2 linked regions of the Homo sapiens genome follow. The protein of the gene in region 1 interacts with the protein of each later gene in a biochemical or structural test. Each region holds a gene or a part of one and is shown in the gene's direction. Other genes may lie near its edges. The genes, in order: ARR3 and RHO.

Evidence for each region.
Region 2: the proteins of ARR3 (region 1) and RHO form a complex in vitro, tested with the Homo sapiens proteins (one study listed by BioGRID).

What each region holds. Positions count from the first base shown.
Region 1 is NC_000023.11:70,262,554-70,272,507, forward strand, and holds the start of ARR3 (arrestin-C), read left to right. Parts: upstream 1-5,780; 5' UTR 5,781-5,819; intron 5,820-6,802; 5' UTR 6,803-6,832; coding exon 6,833-6,840; intron 6,841-7,108; coding exon 7,109-7,139; intron 7,140-7,289; coding exon 7,290-7,350; intron 7,351-7,522; coding exon of another isoform or gene 7,523-7,546; coding exon 7,547-7,591; intron 7,592-9,954. UniProt on the Homo sapiens protein: May play a role in an as yet undefined retina-specific signal transduction. Could bind to photoactivated-phosphorylated red/green opsins.
Region 2 is NC_000003.12:129,521,672-129,532,028, forward strand, and holds the start of RHO (rhodopsin), read left to right. Parts: upstream 1-6,967; 5' UTR 6,968-7,062; coding exon 7,063-7,423; intron 7,424-9,204; coding exon 9,205-9,373; intron 9,374-10,357. UniProt on the Homo sapiens protein: Photoreceptor required for image-forming vision at low light intensity. Required for photoreceptor cell viability after birth.

The sequences.
Region 1 (9,954 bases):
AGAATCTAGAATCTAGATCTCTCGGAAAGCCCAGAAACCTGGATGGGGAAACTGAAGATCCTTGCCCTGTGGCAGAGTAAAGGGTGGAATAAAAGGTAGCAGTGGAGGACACAGTCATAACCTGAGTCCTGGACAGCTGACTACTGTGACATTACATAAGAGGCCCAAGTTTTTGAAGCCAGACGGGCTGGTGTTTAAATCCTTGCTCTTCCACTTATTAGTTATGTGAGCCTGGGCGCCTCTTTGTAACTTCCATTCTTCACCAGTGAAATGGGAATAATAATAATACCAATCTTTTAGGGTTTCCTGAATATTGAATTGGTTAACAGGTGTGGAGCACTTTGTGAACCATAAAATGCTGCAAGTTTAGAAGGTGTTTTTTGTTACTGCTTTGCTCCCAGGAATGAACCTGGCCTCTGCAGAGGTGGACAAGCGTGTTTTGAAGTTTGGTGTACACCCAAGGAGAAGCACTACACTAGAGAAGCCCCAGCCTGAGCCAGCTTCCTGCTCCTACTGCTTCAGGCTGGTTTACCTCTGCTACATTTCTCCTGACTTAGCTCTGCTACGTTTCTGCATGTCCCGACACAGCTGCAGCTGCTGCTGCTGCCACCACTGCCGCCCAGTGGCTATTTCAGGAAAAGACCTCTCCCAACCCTCCCCAACCGGCACACCTGCCTGGCTTTTACTGTCCTCACCCAGGGCCAAGAGGAACGGAATGCAGCAGATCAGCCTCACTCTCTTCTGTGAAACTCTTCTTTACTTTGGTTCCTGTGACTTTGCTTTACTCCGGTTCTCCTCTTCCTCTGGATGTTCCTTCTGGCCCCTTCCCTGGCTCTTTTTTCCCCTACTTCCCCAACATGTGAGCCTTCCCCCAAAGATCCTCTCCTCTCCTCTCTCCTCTCCTCTCCTCTCCTCTCTCTCCCTCTCCACCATCTCTCTCCCCCTACCCCCACCCTCTCTTCCCCTTCTCTCTTGGAACATCCACTCTCATGATTTCAACTATGACTCAGAGGTTATCAAAAATTGTAATGGCCAAGAGACTCCAGCATACAGATCTCTCTCTAATCAAAATGCATCTCTCCTTCTCTCACACTCTTATCACATTTGATTTCTACAGAGATGGCACATACCACAGGCAGCCTAGAATTATACTCATTTGTGTTTTTGGCCATCTCCTCCTGATCCTCCCACCCCCATACCAGAACCAGAGCTCCTTGAGAACATGTACCTCATTTTACCTCTGTCTTTCCCATAGCCTTCCAGGTAAAGTTATTATAACATATGTTCTAGATATTTCCTTTCAAATTATATTCTCTGCTGTCCCCCAAAAAATGCCTTCCAATTCAGAGTTAAGAAAACAAGTACCTTCCACATAGTACATGTTCAATAATAGTTGTTGAGTGAATGAATGACTTAATTATAATTTGTTGAACTGAATGGTTCCCACATCTATAATCTAAGCCCTATATATGTTGTTTGCTATAGGACACACACACTTGGGTATCTCATTGATGTCTGGAATTTAGTATGCAGGAAAAGTTTACTATTTTTTCCCTGACAGAGATAAATAAGATGTACAAATACCATTATTGCTGACACCCTTCCATTGCCCTACTCCTCCAGTTTGTTCCAGTCCTCTCCCTCCTGGCCCTTCACATCTAATATTCGTAATTGTCTTGATGACAGTTTCTTTGCAAGGTTTGCTGTTTCCTTGGGGCTTTAAGAAGGAAAGGGGGAAGAGGCATGATTTCTAATCTCTTTATCTGAGTTAGGAGGAAAGGAACGAAGGAAGGGAGAGAAGGAGGGAAGGAGGGAGGGAGGGGAGAAAGGAGGAATAAAGGTAGGAAGGGAGGGAGAGGGAAGAAAATGAGGGAGGGAAGGTAAGTGATATAGTGGAAAAAATGCAGGCTTGGAGTCAGACAGACCTAGGGTTGAACTCTGGCTCCATCGCCTGCCGGCTATGACTATGGATAAGTCTTTCTGAACCTCCATTTCCTCATATGTAGAATGAGGATGCTAGCACCTAGCTTGTTGTGAGAAGACAATGAAGCAATGCATGTAAGGAACCCAGCAGAGTGCCCTCATTGTCGTTATTGAGAATTAAAGTATACGTGTATTTGGAAGGTGTGAGGTCCACTCCAATTGGCTGAATTTTCTTTATGAAGTGAACAAATGGAATTACCTGCTGAGAGTAAGTGGAACACGAAAGTCACTCAATCTCAATGGAAAGGAGTAGTGATCTGAAGCCCTGGATGTCTAAACTTACTAATAAAATCATTGGGAAGTGACTGGCTTCACATAGTTGTACACAAGTTAACTTTGTCCATATGTATTCTCTGTAGTGTGCCCTTTTTGTCTTTCTACATGTCCAACTTTATCTCCAGCAAGGCTGTTAACAACCTTAGAGTGGAGACCAGGACTAGTTTGTTCAGCACCTAGGACAGCACAGGAAATCTGTTTCTGCGATTTAATCCATCTATCTCCGTTCCGTCCTCCCCCACTGAGCTAATGCCTCATCCACATCCCACTTGAATCTTTTGCTATGTTTTCAGTTGCAATAACAGAAAATCCCAACTTAGATGACTGTTTTTAAAAAAGGAAATATATTATCTTGCATATAAGTTCAGTAGTGGGTGGCTTTGGAGCTGATTAATTCAGCAGTTCAACAATGTCATTAAAAAATCCTGATTCTTTCCATCTTTCTGATTTGCAAACCTCAGCATGTTATTTAGCAACTTTCATGGTCACAAGGTGGCTATTGCCGGTCAGGCATTGTTTCCAGACATGGCAATATTCAATGGTAAAAGAGGAAGGCCTCTTCCTGTATGCTTATTTTTATCATTCAAGAAAACTTTCCCAGAATCTCTCCAGCATACCTCCTCTCACATCACAGTGGCCTGAATTTCACCATGCCTATAACTAGGCTGATCACTGGCAAGGGGGATAAAACGACCATGACTGGCATAGAGGAGCACAGACTCATGCGGAGGAGGATGAATTACCTTAAAAATGGGGATTCTTTCCACAAGGAGGAAGAGGGAGATGACTATTGAGTTGGTAAGCAATTCTGTCTGCTACAACCTTTTACTGAATAACCCACTCCTTCCTCATGCAGACATCTGATCATCATTTTCTAACTGGAAGGTCTGGTTGGGGATATCATCCGGGTGTACAGAATGAGGGTGGGTAAGGACCTAAAAATATTTCTTCCACCCATGTATTATAGGGGCCAGAAACTCCATTAGCTATGCATTCCTTTGCCTACTTACTGTTGCATCCTTGTAAAATGCAAGTATTCCAGGTCAAAGCAAAACTGGTGACAGTTCTCTTTGGGAAGCTACTAACTGGAAAGAGGCACAAAGAAATTTTCTGGGGGGATGGAAATGTTCTATATCTTAACCTGGGTGGTCGTTATATGCGCGTTTACGCAGGTGTATTAGTTTCCTATGGATGCTGTAATAAATTACCACAGACTTGGTGACTTAAAACAATGCACAGTTCTTCTCTTACAGTTCTGGAGGTCAGAAGTCCAAAATCAGTTTCAATGGACCAAAATCAAGGTTTCAGCAGGGCCATGCCTGAGCAGGAACAGCCATCTTGCAGCCATGAGAGACTTTAGGGGAGAATCGATTTCTTTGTCTTTTCCAGTTTCTAGAGCTGTATTCCTTGCATTCCTTAGCTCATGGCCCCTTCCTCCGTCTTCAAAGCCAGCAGCCTAACATCTTGCTTCAGGCCTCATATTTCCTCCTATCTCAGAGTCAAAACTCTCTCTGCCCCTCTCTCATAAAGAGACTGGTGATTACATTAGGGCCCACCTGGATAATCCAGAATGATCTCCCTATTTCAACATCCTTAATTTATTCACATCTGCAAAGTCTCTTTTTCATATAAGGTAATGTTCATCGGTTCCCAGGATTAAGACCTGACATCTTTGGGGGCATAATTCAGCTTGCCACAGTAGGTAAAAATTCATTGAGCTGCAGTTAAGATTTGTGAATTTTACCTCAGTCAAGAAATGCACAAACTTCTGGAAAAGAGTAATGATTTACATTCCATCATAATAATGAATTAAAGACCTAGCAGATCTACTCTTTTCCTACCGAGAGGCCCATGGATCTGAGTAGAAAGAGAAGATAAGCGGGATTGAGTACCTAAAAGGGAGGTAGGAGCCTCGAGTGTGGGTCTAAAGACAAAAACAGGCTGACCACTAGTCATTCTAGAGATCTGGGAAAGGTTTCCTGAATGATGAAAATAAGCATACAAGAAGAGAGGCCTTCCTTTCCTGCCATTGAATATTGCCATGTCTGGCATGAAAAGTAGATTCATTCTGACTTTTCGCCTTCCTCGCAGACACCAACCTTGGCATGTATACAAATCTTTCCTGTATGTCCAGCATCAGTTCCTATCCCACTGTGGTACCTGCAGAATCTGGGCTTCTTGCACTATCTGAAAGCCCCTGAGAAGGAGAGAGTTATAGTAACTAAACAACCAGGCCCTGAGATGCATATTGGCTAGGAATGGCAGGGGCTGACACTGTGAACTGTGCAAAGAGAATATGGGACAGCTGTCCAGGGCCCTCAGTGAGGGGCAGGAGTTAGGGAAGGCCCTGCCCAGCCCTCTGAGCCATAGCCATAGCCATCCTCTGAGGAATGGACACCCCATTGTGGGGGTTGGGGTTGAGGGCTGTGTCTATAGATAACTACTAATGTCCAGACTGCTGTAAGGGGAGGTGAAGGAGGTCAGAGTCCTGAAACCCCAGAGCTTATAGATTCTGTCTCTACATTTTCTATGCCCGTGAAGCCTGAGCCTAGGCCCTGTGGGAAGGACAGTCAAGAAAGGAAGATTACTTTGTTGTTGCTGTTGTGGGGGTCCTGGCAGCTGAAGAGACAGAAATATCTCTAATTCCATGAGCGGTCATACGAGGCAAGAGAAGCTGCTTAGAGCATGGACTTAGTTAGTTTCAGGGATTGGACAGAGTCAAGAGCTGGGGTGAGGAGGTTTACCCTCGGTAGGGGTGACACAGATGTCAACCGCCTATTCCCTCCACATGCATGTCCTGCCAGAAGAACCTGTCCCTGGGCTGGGAATCTTATATTACCTTCCTCTCCAATGAGAAGAGAAGTTCAAGGCTCACAGACATGTGCATACACAGCTCAATGCACTCAGATCCCCCTCCACCACTCCTGCCCCCACTACCTACAGGAGATTGACTCCTGCTGTGCACATAAGCTGGGATAATCAGGGTTTCTAAACATCAGCTTCAAAAGTCCAATGTCCCAAAGTGGTGGGGGGCTGGGGACGAGGTACTCTTTCCCATACCCTTGGCTTTTGTGTGGCCTGGAGCCGCTGATATAGAGATTGGAGTGGGACACGAGGTATTCCTTTCAAAAACACAAAGGCCTATACTTTGAGCCCTCCCATTTCAATCCCCCACCATGCTTCACCTTTAAGACCTCCAACTCCACTTTGATCCCAGTTCTCAGGTTCAAGGCCTCACAAGGCCAAAATCCTGAAGTTACCCTTCTCAAACTCCCTTGCCTTTAACATCATCAGAATCAACCTCCTACCCCCACTCTGTCCCAGCAGCAATAGCCTGCTAATCTTTTAGCCACTAATCTTTTAGGCACTAATCTGCTTTCCAAACTCTTGGCACCTGAACTATTTATAGCAGTGTTTTATGCCCCCCCACCAAGAACCCTATTCTTTTCCCATGACCCCCACCAATCAAAACACTCAGAGGACTGTGGGTATAAGAGGCTGGGGAGGCAGGCATAGCAACCAGAGCTGGAGACTGATGTGAACTTCATCTCTCTCCCCAGGTAATATTCCAAAGCCCTCTACTTCTAGCCCATACTAAGCCCTATATCCCTTGCTCTTAGCATCCCTCTTAATATATCAGGCAGCAGTTGAGGGACACCCTTCCTGACATAGCCTATAGACATTCAGGCCTAGAGACCCTCCAAAGACCTCTGGAAGCTCCCCTAAGCTCACCCCCTGGGCCAGGCTCAGTAAGCATCAAAGGAAAGCACTAGAGAGACATCTCCCTCTCTCTAAGGATTCCCATCCAAAGGCCTAGCCCCTGGGGACCTGGATGGGGATAAGGATGGGAAAATCTAGGAAAGGCAATGAGAGGGATGAGTTGGTTCAAGGAGGACTTTCAACCTCCATAGAGACTTCTGTCACCAAAAACTGAGAGCATGAAGGCACCAACCCCTTCTCTCTCACACTTTTCTCCCTTCTTTGTTGAGAGTCAAGGGCATCATGAGGTGAACTCAGGTTCAGGATCCATTGCAGGAGCAGAAGGAGACAGAATCCATTGATTTGTCCATTCATTCATTCATTCATTCATTCATTCATGTATCCAACAAACATGTCTTGGCACCTAGTGTGTGCCAGGGGATGTCTAGCCTCATACAGACCAAGAAACACATTTTTCTCACACTTTTCTGGATGGAAGCCTCTGTCCAGCCTCTTTCCAGAGAAGTTCCTTCTCTCTCAGGGTTCTCAAGAGTTCCCCAGCCATTCTAGGAAGTTTGGCCCTTTCTGGAGAATACATAGTATGGTTAGTCAATGATTTGTACAAAATAGGAAGGTTTTTTTCCCCTCTTGCCCAAGATGGGCAAGAATATGGCTGAAGAAGTACCCTTGGCAGAAGGGAGAATAGGAGGTACTTGATGTGGGTGAGGTGTCTGTCTAAGGAGGAAAGGTTACATCACACTAGGTGTATATGGATGGTATGCTGGAGTGGGGTGAGAAGAATAGAAATGAAATGATTGAGCCTTTCTTCTTTCCCTTTTCCCAGAAAAGGCTCAACATCAACTATATAGCCAACATGTCCAAGTAAGAATTCCTTCTAATCCTCTGAACCTGTGAATTGCTCCCTACCCCAATCCAAGTATTTCCCTTTGGGGTAGGGGGATTTCCAATTTCTCCCTAACTTGTGTCCTTGGATTCTACCCCAATTATCCCTACCTTTGCCCCATCCTATGCTCCTGGAGCCTCTTCTCCTAATCCTAAGAATATTTCTTTTTCTCCCCAATTCCCTTATTTCCTCTTCCCTGCACTTCCAATCCCCCTCTCCATCCTCTTTCTGGTTTTCTCCTCATAGGGTGTTTAAGAAGACCAGCTCCAATGGGAAGGTGAGAGAACCTGGCCCAGCTGGGCAAATGAGAGGGCAAAAGGGATAGGTGGGTACATCCTTCAAGGTCTCAGGGGTCTGGGTTGGGGGTTTCAGGGGAATCCATTCAAAAATGATTGTGAGAATAACATGGGAAGTTGTTCCACAACAGCTCTCCATCTACCTGGGGAAACGGGACTTCGTGGACCATGTGGACACGGTGGAACCCATTGGTCAGTGAGTCCAAAAAAGGGAAGCCTGGGGAAAGAGGAATGGAAACTAGGGAGTAAAAGAAAGTCCAGGAAAGACCGTGCAGAAAAGGAGGCAAATTAAAGGGAAGAATAGGAAGAACCATTTCAGGGATCATCCTCTGTTTCATAGTCTGAGAGTTTTTCCTGACCAAAGTGCTGTCTGTCCTTCTCTCCACAGACGGTGTTGTCCTGGTTGATCCTGAGTACTTAAAATGTCGAAAGTGTAAGTGGAAATCCTTGTTGGTCTTTGTATGTTTCAGACAGGTAACCCGATGAGTGGATTGCACCAGAGTACAACAAAACCAGAAAGTGGCAGGAACTGCGAATGCCTTCTCTGGTGGAGGCTGACAACTGGGAATTCCAGCCCAGTGTGGCCAAATTTTCTAATTGTTAATGAGGAGCTGTAAACGAAGCTCAAAATAAGACTTTTAGAGGCCCAAAGTGTGAAAAGATTATGGTGCCCCCTTACCCAAATAATATTCAAAGTAAATATCTAAAGCATAAATTAAATTTTATTTTTCAAAATTACACAAAACTTACACTTGTGCTGAAATTAAAATAGCTTCTTTCAGAATTTCAGATTTTCTCTATTATTACTGGTGGTGCCCCTGCTTGGCTATTGATCTGGATCTTAGACTGCCTATAGAATGATCCAGTAAGTCAGAAATCCATATTTTAAGGCAAATTTCCTGATTTTCAAATGTCAGCAACTCACTAAAAGACTTTAGAAGCCTGGATAGATTATAAACTTTTTTTTTTTTTCTGTTGGCTAGATGTGACTTTCAGGCTGTCATTTTGTAACCTCTGGTATACGTCTTTCCATCTCCTTTTTTTGTGTAGGGAAACTGGCTGACCTTTTATTCAAGAAAAAAAAATCCCAAACAAAGAAACAAAACAACAACCATAGGAAGTAACACTAAGAAACATTACTCTGGCAGCAGTATTACAGATCAAGATTATGCTGATTTTTTTTTTTTGCTGCTTTTTTTCCTTTTAATTCTCACTATGGATTAACCCCACTGTGATCCAACTAGACTGAAAATTGGGTTTGATTTGAAAAAGGCTCTGAATGGGTTGATGAATACTAGTTCAGATGTAACTGTTAGATATTGGAGAATAAAGTAGCCTAAATCTCTCAGATTAAGCAGTGTAAATAAGCAATCAAATCGGTTTTAAGTATCAGAGGAACTTTGGGATAGACTCATAAATTAACCAACTTATTTAAGGTTCCCAAGTATTCTATATTTCTAAAACCTAAATCATTTTTTCACATTTCTACAAAATCTTCACAAGCTATGGAAAGAAATCTTTAGTTAAAAATATATGTTGTTCCAGGAAGAGATGCATTTTTCCTTTTATTCTAATCTTCTTTTATGTCCCCTTAGTAGAGTTTTATATTACTTTTCATTTAAGTTGTGCATATTTCTTGTTTATTCTTAGTTTTTCAATATGGTTTGTTACCTCTGTGAAGATTGTCTTGTTTGCATCATATTTTCTAATGTGTTTTTCTATCAAGGTACATTTGTGGATGTAAAATATGCTTACCCTATACTGTGGAGTGATAAAGGCCAGTGATAGGGCAGTATATGTGGTGGTGTGAACGAATTGTTGTTTAACAAAAATCTATCTGGAATCTCTCTCTGTATTATTTCTTACAACTGCATGTGACTCTACAATGATCTCAAAATACAAAGTTTAACTTCAAAAAGGCAATGAGAGAAAAGTAAAAAATACCTAAGGTGGCCTTGTGTTCAATTATAGCAACAGACAAAGTTGAGAAGCACACATAACAGGTATTAACAGTAGTTATCTGTGGAACATGATATATTATGGTGGAGCTTTGATTTGTCTTTTTGTTTGTATTTTCTGATGTTCAGACAATTAACATATATTTTGTAGAATAAACACAACTATACATTAATAACTTTAAAATAGATACTGACTTTAAAAGAAAATAAAAACAAGCTATTTCCTAGCATGCAAAAAAAAGGACGATTCTAAACTGCTAGAGAGCCAATTAGAGCTTCAGTTGGGGGTAGGAGTTGCGTGATGCAGTTGATGTCTTAGTCTGCTGCCTTCCCAACACAGGAACAGAAAGCGATTCCAAGAACAAGTCATCTGATTAACGTCCTTACCTCAGGTGCTACTAGATCCCCTTCTGCCTCGCCCATCCTGACCTTTTTTTCTGTCTCATTCCTCATCTTTTTCATTTCTTCTCTCACCCTGCCTCCTACCAGCCACCTCTTTTCCTCTCCTTTTTACTTTCTGTCTTTTTCCTTTCCTTTGTGCCTTATTTTCCTTTCTTTCTCTCTCCTTTCTCTCACTATAATTGGCCATAATTGAGAACCAAGGTGAATCTATTTGCTGTATCTTTGAAAATTATTAGGTTTGTCTCCATTGTAGAAAAATTAGAAAACATAGATGAAGGAGAGACTGTGTAACCTTACCATCTTTAATCACTAATCTTTTGATCTTATTTATTCATATTTTCTGTGCAAACATATCTATATTTTCACTAAAAATGCTATACTAAAAATAATATTTTACATTTTTTAAACCTATGTCAATATACACAAATCTATAACT
Region 2 (10,357 bases), on another chromosome or scaffold:
TTGTGCCAACAGAACTCCTCCGTCGAGTGTCTAATTACTTACCATCATGCATGCGCTCTCTCACTAAACATTTATTAATGTGTTAGGATTTCCATTAGCGCATGACTTCAACTGAAATCATTTGCATATGGCTGGGAAAAAGGGGAGAGGGAGAAAACAGCTCCAGCTACCCAGCAGTCAATCACAGTGACAGATCAGATGGTCCCTGGCTGGAGGCAGGGGAGGGTTCCAGCCGAGACTCCAGCATGCATCCCCTCAGCCGAAGAACACAAAAATGAGTGTGCTGTGCCGGGCTCTGCTGCCCCAGGAAGCTCAGCTCTAGAGGCCTGAGTAGGACCCCTATTCATTCAGATGCACTTTCCGTGCATCATCCAAGGCTGCCTATTACACAGGTGATGACACTGAGCCTCAGTCATGTTATTTTTCATTCAGCAAATATGCATTAAGCCAAGGCATATTTGGTCGCACCTGGGTGCAACCTTTGTGCATAAGCCCTGTGTCTGGCTGCTTTTCTCTCTCAGCCTGATCTGGGTCTGAACCAAGTCCAGTCTTTTCTCCAAGGCTGTTTCCCCATCTGCACAAAAGGGCCCCCTCCAGCTCTGACTCTGAGGTTCCAGCCTCAGTCTGCGTCTGTGAACAGCGCTGGATGATGATCCTGTTGACCCCTCAAGTGCCTGTGACAAGGAAGGCACCACAGGGACCTGGTGATGCCCATTGAACTAAGAGGACACTGAGGCCAGAGAGGAGCAGCTGCTGAAGGCTGCACGGTGGGGCAGTGATTCTGGCCTTTAGCCTGTAGTCCCAACTACTCAGGAGGCTGAGGTGGAAGGATCAATTGAGCCAAGGACAGGAATTCAAGGCTGCAGTAAGCTATGATTGCACCACTGCACTCCAGCCTGGGCAACAGAGCAACATTCATCTCTAAACAACATTTAAAAATTGTTTTAAGAAGACAAATGAGATAACTGTTGATCGTAATGGCTGTGTAAAAACTGAACATGGCTGGGTGTGGTCGCTCACACCTGTAATCTCAGCACTTTGGGAGGCCAAGGCAGGAGGATCGCTTGAGCCGGGAGTTAGAGACCAGCTCAGACAATATAGGGAGACCCCATCTGACTGGGACTGGTCCTGATCTCTCATCTCCAAGTGCTCAACATTGTGCCCATGTTCTTGGAAGGAGGAAGTAAGGGAGAGGTAGACTGAGCAGCCTCAGGTGGACCTGACTGGAGACGCACCTCAGGCAGCTGGAGGTCCCCGGGCCTTGGTTTCCCATCTGTCCCCAGCAAGGCTGTGAAGCTAGGAGCCCCTGGTGGCTGTCACACAGGTGGGCAGAGGCCCCTCCTCCAAGGTCGCTCTGTGTCTCTTCCCTGGCTTGGAGTCTGTGTGCCCACAGCAGAGGCCACCACTGGGCAGGGTGCTTACCCCGAGCCTCCCTGATTCTCCCCCTGCAGATCCAGAACACTGGCCTGGTATGGAGACCTCGTCATGGCCCTCCCTGCTTGCCACCCGCAGTAGCTGCCCATGCAATTCAGCCAACACCCAGACCCCTAGGCCTGCCCTCTATCCCCAGCACGCCACCCTGGGGGGCCCAGCACCTCCAGGCCCAGCTGGCCCTCCCTACCTGCCCTGCTTGGGAGACTCTTTTGACCCTCCTGGTCCACCTTTTGCTCCTCTGGGCTCCCACAGCACTGGGACTGGGAGAAAATGCTCATCTCTCATGTTTAGTTTCCGATCAGTACCCCCTGAGACTGGGAGCCCCTTGAAAGCAGGAACCATGTGGGATCCACCTCAGCGTCCCCAGGGCCTGGCGCATATAAGGAGTTTGGCAAATGCTAGGGTAGAAAAGAGAAAGAGGAAGGAGGGAATGAGAGCTGGTCTTTCTCCCTCCCTTATTCCCCCTTGATGCTCTCAGTACCGCTGAAGGCCTCATGTAGCCTTGGTGACGCAGCCTGGTGGGGCTGAGCCATGTGGGGGACCAGGAGAAAGAAAGCCAAGGAAGAGGAGGAGGAGGAGGAGAAGGAGGAGAAGGATGCTGACCTAGCAGCTCCTCTCACAGCAGCTCCTCTCTTGCAGAGGCTGAAGAGCGATTTGTGCCCTGCAAGCTAAGCCCCTAATCCACCGAGGCAAAGGCAAAGCCCCTAGCCGGGCTCCCGAGGGCTGGGACTCGGGTGCCCCAAGATGGCTGCATCCAGCCATCTTGGCTTAGAAAGCCCCCCACATGCCAGCTTGGCCAACACCCACACCATGGGTTTCTCTGGACTGCCCGACACAAGGTGTGGGTGCTGGCCAGGCCTGTGTTCAAATCCCAGCTCTGCAGAGGAACTTTGACCCTGCATACCCCAGATTCCTCAGTGGTCAGTGGGGAGTTAGACCCTCTTCATAGGGGGCAGGAGGAGTTGTTCATTCATTCAACAAATGTTTATTGAACACCTCCTATGGGTTGTGAGCTCAGAGGCAGCGATGAACAGGCCAGGCTGGTCCTGCATTCTAGAAATAGATGGGAAGTCAGTCAATAAGTAGACAAATGAGGCCAGGTGTGGTGGCATGCCTGTAGACCCAGTTACTCGGGATGCTGAGGTAGGAGGATCACTTGAGCCTAGGACAGGAATTCAAGGCTGCAGTAAGCTATGATTGCGCCACTGCACTCCAGCCTGGGCAACAGAGCAAGACTCATCTCTAAAAAACATTTAAAAATTGTTTTAAGAAGACAAATGAGATAGTCGCTGATGGTAATGACTGTGTAAAAACTGAACATGGCTGGGTGTGGTTGCTCACACCTATAATCTCAGCACTTTGGGAGGCTGAGATTACAGCCTCCCAAGTGGCTCCCAAGGCAGGAGGATCACTTGAGCCTGGGAGTTAGAGAACAGCTTGGACAATATAGGGAGAGCCCAACTCTACAAAAATGAAAATAAATTAGCCAGGCATGGTGGCACACACCAATGGTCCCAGCTACTCAGGGGTTGAGGTGGTGGACCGCTTGAGCCCAGGAGGTTGAGGCTGCAGTGAGCCATGATCATGCCGCTGCACTCCAACCTGAGTCACAGAGTGATACCCTGTCTCAAAAAACAATAGGCCAGGTGTGGTGGCTCACGCCTGTAACCCCAGCACTTTGGGAGGCCGAGGCGGATGGATCACTTGAGATCAGGAGTTAGAGACCAGCCTGGCTAACATGGCAAAATCCTGTCTGTACTAAAAATATAAAAATTAGCCAGGCATGGCAGTACATGCCTGTAGTCCTGGTTACTTGGGAGGCTAAGGCAGGAGAATCGCTTGAACCCAGGAAGAGGAGGTTGCAGTGAGCCAAGATCACACCACTGCACTCCAGCTTGGGTGACAGAGTGAGACCCTGTCTCAAAACAGCTAAACCTGGTGGGGGTGCCTGGTGTGTAGGATGGTCAGGGGTGGTCTCTCCAAGGACATGAGTGTGAGCGGAGACCTGAAGGAGACTCAGGAAGAGATTAATACTGTCAGCAACAAATATATTGATCACTTACAAGCACTCCCAATAATCCTATTAGGTAGGCACTATTATCATTCCCATTTTACAGAGTGGAGAACCGAAGCACACTCTCGGGAGGGCGGGGTAGCTGGCTGCACCCAGGCTGTGTAGCCTCAGTCCAGATGTAAGGGTGGGTGGAAAAGAGCCTTGCCCAATGAGGGAGAACAGTGAAACCAAGGCCATAGGGTCTAAAGATTCACGAACCAGGCTCTCATGGAGAAAGCAGGTGAGGTTTACTGTATAGATGGGTGTGCCCCTACCCCACACTGAGGCTTCCTCGTCTGAGCAAACTGAGGCCCAGAGAGGGGAAGGAAGCAGGACTACCATGGTGACTCAAAGACCAGCTAGAATCCAGCCTCCTCTCCTCGAGGCTTCCACTGCCCCACGCCAGGCCTGTGTGACTCAGTCTAGGGCCTTTCCATTACCCCAGCTAAACCTTTCTTTAGTCATTTATACCATGGTGTGAATGGCTGGCTGGTCTTTCCTGAGAGCTATCTTTGATGAGGGGAGGGAGGCATAGCCAGGTTTGGGAAGCTGATACCCCAGGAAGCCCAGTTGACTGTGTGGGTTATAGCCCAGGCTGTCACTGATTTGTAACGGGACCTGAGCAACTCTGCAGAGCTAGGCCTCAGTCTTTTCATCTGCAAAATGGATATAGCAGAGATGGTCAGAGTAGGTGACTTCGAATGACCCTTCCAGCTCACTATGAGTCTGTTTTCCTGAACAAAGAGCATTTTTTGTTTAAAAAAAAATTTCTTGGGCCGGACACGGTGGTTCACTCCTATAATCCTGGCACTTTGGGAGGCCGAGGAGGGTGGATCGCTTGAGCCAGGAGTTCAGGACCAGCCTGGGCAACATAGCGAGACTCCACCCCTACAAAAAATACAAAAACTAGTGGTGTGCACTTGTGGTCCCAGCTACTCAGGAGGCTGAGGTGAGAGGATCGCTTGAGCCCAGGAGGCAGAGGCTACAGTGAGCTATGATTGTGGCACTGCACTCCAGCCTGGGCGACAGAGACCTTGTCTCAAAACTTTTTTTTTCTTCGTCAAGCTTTACAGAATAAAGAGCACTGTCACCTCAGTGATGGCTGTTAGTTCCCCATCACCAGGGCTCCATGAGGTTGCAATTGTGAAACTCACAAAGGAGGAACCTGAGACAGAGAGGGGAAGTACTGAGATCATCTAGGTCCATTCCCCCACTCACTCGTTCATTCAACAAATATTCAGGAGCACCTTCTAGGTGCCAGGCCCTGGAGACACATCAGTGAACAAAACAGACATCATCCCACCTCTTTCCACTACAGGCCAAGCACCATGCTGGTCTCTGGGAACCCTGTTGTGAGCAAGACAGACCCAGGCTTACCCTTGTGGACTCATGTTACAGGCAGGGAGACGGGCACAAAACACAAATAAAAAGCTTCCATGCTGTCAGAAGCACTATGCAAAAAGCAAGATGCTGAGGTACTGCTAAGCTGTGTGGGATGGGGGCTCAGCCCGGCCAGGGAGGGGCCAGTTGTGGGTCAGTCTTGACCCAAGGCATCCAGGACACCCTCCTTCTGGCCATGAGGGTCCACGTCAGAATCAAACCCTCACCTTAACCTCATTAGCGTTGGGCATAATCACCAGGCCAAGCGCCTTAAACTACGAGAGGCCCCATCCCACCCGCCCTGCCTTAGCCCTGCCACGTGTGCCAAACGCTGTTAGACCCAACACCACCCAGGCCAGGTAGGGGGCTGGAGCCCAGGTGGGCTGCAGGGAAGGGGGCACTCTTCTGAGCAGACAGATCTGGGAATCCTGGGTGGGAAGAGAGACAGTGAGAGAGAGATTAAGGGATATTTCCCAGGCATCAGGGCTTTGCACTCTCAGGGGTCCTTCCGCCTGGATGTCCTTCCCCTGAAGCTTCCTCCTGTTGTTCCGTTCTCAGCTCAAGCTCCAGCTTCTCAGAGAAGCCTCCTGTGTTGGGAGTGGCTGCGACTGAACTGTCCCTACTGTTATTCGCTCTTCTATTTGTTTGTGGTCCCTGTGCCCCCTCACCCCACAAAAACACTGGCTTCTTGTGAGCAGGAGCTTGCTCTTTCGTGTACCCTGTGTGTCCCCAAGGACCAAGCACCTTGTCTGGGCCACAGTAGGTGCTCAATACACATGTTGGCTGGACAGTGGTCACTGAGCGGCCGCACGTCGGGCACTCTCAGCACTTGCACAGGCCGCCCCAGACACCCCACTTCATTCCTGGGAGGTGTCATCATGTTGCTTGGACGACGGGGAGAGGGGGACCTGCCAGTGTTGGCCTCCATTTTCCCCCAGTCATCTGCCCCCAAGGCTCTGACTACTTTCTTTCTCACGGTACATCCTGCTATTCTGGAATCGGCCCTCGTGGGGCCACCTGGTACATGGCATTTGAGGCCCTCGTGGCTGATTAGGCCTCCCCCAACAGTGCCCTGTCTGCTGCCTCCAGGGCCAGCCTCCCCTTCAGACTGGAGTCCCCTGAAGGGTTCTGCCCCTCCCCTGCTCTGGTAGCCCCCTCCATCCTCCCTCCCTCCACTCCATCTTTGGGGGCATTTGAGTCACCTTTCTACACCAGTGATCTGCCCAAGCCACTGCTCACTTTCCTCTGGATAAAGCCAGGTTCCCCGGCCTAGCGTTCAAGACCCATTACAACTGCCCCCAGCCCAGATCTTCCCCACCTAGCCACCTGGCAAACTGCTCCTTCTCTCAAAGGCCCAAACATGGCCTCCCAGACTGCAACCCCCAGGCAGTCAGGCCCTGTCTCCACAACCTCACAGCCACCCTGGACGGAATCTGCTTCTTCCCACATTTGAGTCCTCCTCAGCCCCTGAGCTCCTCTGGGCAGGGCTGTTTCTTTCCATCTTTGTATTCCCAGGGGCCTGCAAATAAATGTTTAATGAACGAACAAGAGAGTGAATTCCAATTCCATGCAACAAGGATTGGGCTCCTGGGCCCTAGGCTATGTGTCTGGCACCAGAAACGGAAGCTGCAGGTTGCAGCCCCTGCCCTCATGGAGCTCCTCCTGTCAGAGGAGTGTGGGGACTGGATGACTCCAGAGGTAACTTGTGGGGGAACGAACAGGTAAGGGGCTGTGTGACGAGATGAGAGACTGGGAGAATAAACCAGAAAGTCTCTAGCTGTCCAGAGGACATAGCACAGAGGCCCATGGTCCCTATTTCAAACCCAGGCCACCAGACTGAGCTGGGACCTTGGGACAGACAAGTCATGCAGAAGTTAGGGGACCTTCTCCTCCCTTTTCCTGGATCCTGAGTACCTCTCCTCCCTGACCTCAGGCTTCCTCCTAGTGTCACCTTGGCCCCTCTTAGAAGCCAATTAGGCCCTCAGTTTCTGCAGCGGGGATTAATATGATTATGAACACCCCCAATCTCCCAGATGCTGATTCAGCCAGGAGCTTAGGAGGGGGAGGTCACTTTATAAGGGTCTGGGGGGGTCAGAACCCAGAGTCATCCAGCTGGAGCCCTGAGTGGCTGAGCTCAGGCCTTCGCAGCATTCTTGGGTGGGAGCAGCCACGGGTCAGCCACAAGGGCCACAGCCATGAATGGCACAGAAGGCCCTAACTTCTACGTGCCCTTCTCCAATGCGACGGGTGTGGTACGCAGCCCCTTCGAGTACCCACAGTACTACCTGGCTGAGCCATGGCAGTTCTCCATGCTGGCCGCCTACATGTTTCTGCTGATCGTGCTGGGCTTCCCCATCAACTTCCTCACGCTCTACGTCACCGTCCAGCACAAGAAGCTGCGCACGCCTCTCAACTACATCCTGCTCAACCTAGCCGTGGCTGACCTCTTCATGGTCCTAGGTGGCTTCACCAGCACCCTCTACACCTCTCTGCATGGATACTTCGTCTTCGGGCCCACAGGATGCAATTTGGAGGGCTTCTTTGCCACCCTGGGCGGTATGAGCCGGGTGTGGGTGGGGTGTGCAGGAGCCCGGGAGCATGGAGGGGTCTGGGAGAGTCCCGGGCTTGGCGGTGGTGGCTGAGAGGCCTTCTCCCTTCTCCTGTCCTGTCAATGTTATCCAAAGCCCTCATATATTCAGTCAACAAACACCATTCATGGTGATAGCCGGGCTGCTGTTTGTGCAGGGCTGGCACTGAACACTGCCTTGATCTTATTTGGAGCAATATGCGCTTGTCTAATTTCACAGCAAGAAAACTGAGCTGAGGCTCAAAGAAGTCAAGCGCCCTGCTGGGGCGTCACACAGGGACGGGTGCAGAGTTGAGTTGGAAGCCCGCATCTATCTCGGGCCATGTTTGCAGCACCAAGCCTCTGTTTCCCTTGGAGCAGCTGTGCTGAGTCAGACCCAGGCTGGGCACTGAGGGAGAGCTGGGCAAGCCAGACCCCTCCTCTCTGGGGGCCCAAGCTCAGGGTGGGAAGTGGATTTTCCATTCTCCAGTCATTGGGTCTTCCCTGTGCTGGGCAATGGGCTCGGTCCCCTCTGGCATCCTCTGCCTCCCCTCTCAGCCCCTGTCCTCAGGTGCCCCTCCAGCCTCCCTGCCGCGTTCCAAGTCTCCTGGTGTTGAGAACCGCAAGCAGCCGCTCTGAAGCAGTTCCTTTTTGCTTTAGAATAATGTCTTGCATTTAACAGGAAAACAGATGGGGTGCTGCAGGGATAACAGATCCCACTTAACAGAGAGGAAAACTGAGGCAGGGAGAGGGGAAGAGACTCATTTAGGGATGTGGCCAGGCAGCAACAAGAGCCTAGGTCTCCTGGCTGTGATCCAGGAATATCTCTGCTGAGATGCAGGAGGAGACGCTAGAAGCAGCCATTGCAAAGCTGGGTGACGGGGAGAGCTTACCGCCAGCCACAAGCGTCTCTCTGCCAGCCTTGCCCTGTCTCCCCCATGTCCAGGCTGCTGCCTCGGTCCCATTCTCAGGGAATCTCTGGCCATTGTTGGGTGTTTGTTGCATTCAATAATCACAGATCACTCAGTTCTGGCCAGAAGGTGGGTGTGCCACTTACGGGTGGTTGTTCTCTGCAGGGTCAGTCCCAGTTTACAAATATTGTCCCTTTCACTGTTAGGAATGTCCCAGTTTGGTTGATTAACTATATGGCCACTCTCCCTATGGAACTTCATGGGGTGGTGAGCAGGACAGATGTCTGAATTCCATCATTTCCTTCTTCTTCCTCTGGGCAAAACATTGCACATTGCTTCATGGCTCCTAGGAGAGGCCCCCACATGTCCGGGTTATTTCATTTCCCGAGAAGGGAGAGGGAGGAAGGACTGCCAATTCTGGGTTTCCACCACCTCTGCATTCCTTCCCAACAAGGAACTCTGCCCCACATTAGGATGCATTCTTCTGCTAAACACACACACACACACACACACACACAACACACACACACACACACACACACACACACACACAAAACTCCCTACCGGGTTCCCAGTTCAATCCTGACCCCCTGATCTGATTCGTGTCCCTTATGGGCCCAGAGCGCTAAGCAAATAACTTCCCCCATTCCCTGGAATTTCTTTGCCCAGCTCTCCTCAGCGTGTGGTCCCTCTGCCCCTTCCCCCTCCTCCCAGCACCAAGCTCTCTCCTTCCCCAAGGCCTCCTCAAATCCCTCTCCCACTCCTGGTTGCCTTCCTAGCTACCCTCTCCCTGTCTAGGGGGGAGTGCACCCTCCTTAGGCAGTGGGGTCTGTGCTGACCGCCTGCTGACTGCCTTGCAGGTGAAATTGCCCTGTGGTCCTTGGTGGTCCTGGCCATCGAGCGGTACGTGGTGGTGTGTAAGCCCATGAGCAACTTCCGCTTCGGGGAGAACCATGCCATCATGGGCGTTGCCTTCACCTGGGTCATGGCGCTGGCCTGCGCCGCACCCCCACTCGCCGGCTGGTCCAGGTAATGGCACTGAGCAGAAGGGAAGAAGCTCCGGGGGCTCTTTGTAGGGTCCTCCAGTCAGGACTCAAACCCAGTAGTGTCTGGTTCCAGGCACTGACCTTGTATGTCTCCTGGCCCAAATGCCCACTCAGGGTAGGGGTGTAGGGCAGAAGAAGAAACAGACTCTAATGTTGCTACAAGGGCTGGTCCCATCTCCTGAGCCCCATGTCAAACAGAATCCAAGACATCCCAACCCTTCACCTTGGCTGTGCCCCTAATCCTCAACTAAGCTAGGCGCAAATTCCAATCCTCTTTGGTCTAGTACCCCGGGGGCAGCCCCCTCTAACCTTGGGCCTCAGCAGCAGGGGAGGCCACACCTTCCTAGTGCAGGTGGCCATATTGTGGCCCCTTGGAACTGGGTCCCACTCAGCCTCTAGGCGATTGTCTCCTAATGGGGCTGAGATGAGACACAGTGGGGACAGTGGTTTGGACAATAGGACTGGTGACTCTGGTCCCCAGAGGCCTCATGTCCCTCTGTCTCCAGAAAATTCCCACTCTCACTTCCCTTTCCTCCTCAGTCTTGCTAGGGTCCATTTCTTACCCCTTGCTGAATTTGAGCCCACCCCCTGGACTTTTTCCCCATCTTCTCCAATCTGGCCTAGTTCTATCCTCTGGAAGCAGAGCCGCTGGACGCTCTGGGTTTCCTGAGGCCCGTCCACTGTCACCAATATCAGGAACCATTGCCACGTCCTAATGACGTGCGCTGGAAGCCTCTAGTTTCCAGAAGCTGCACAAAGATCCCTTAGATACTCTGTGTGTCCATCTTTGGCCTGGAAAATACTCTCACCCTGGGGCTAGGAAGACCTCGGTTTGTACAAACTTCCTCAAATGCAGAGCCTGAGGGCTCTCCCCACCTCCTCACCAACCCTCTGCGTGGCATAGCCCTAGCCTCAGCGGGCAGTGGATGCTGGGGCTGGGCATGCAGGGAGAGGCTGGGTGGTGTCA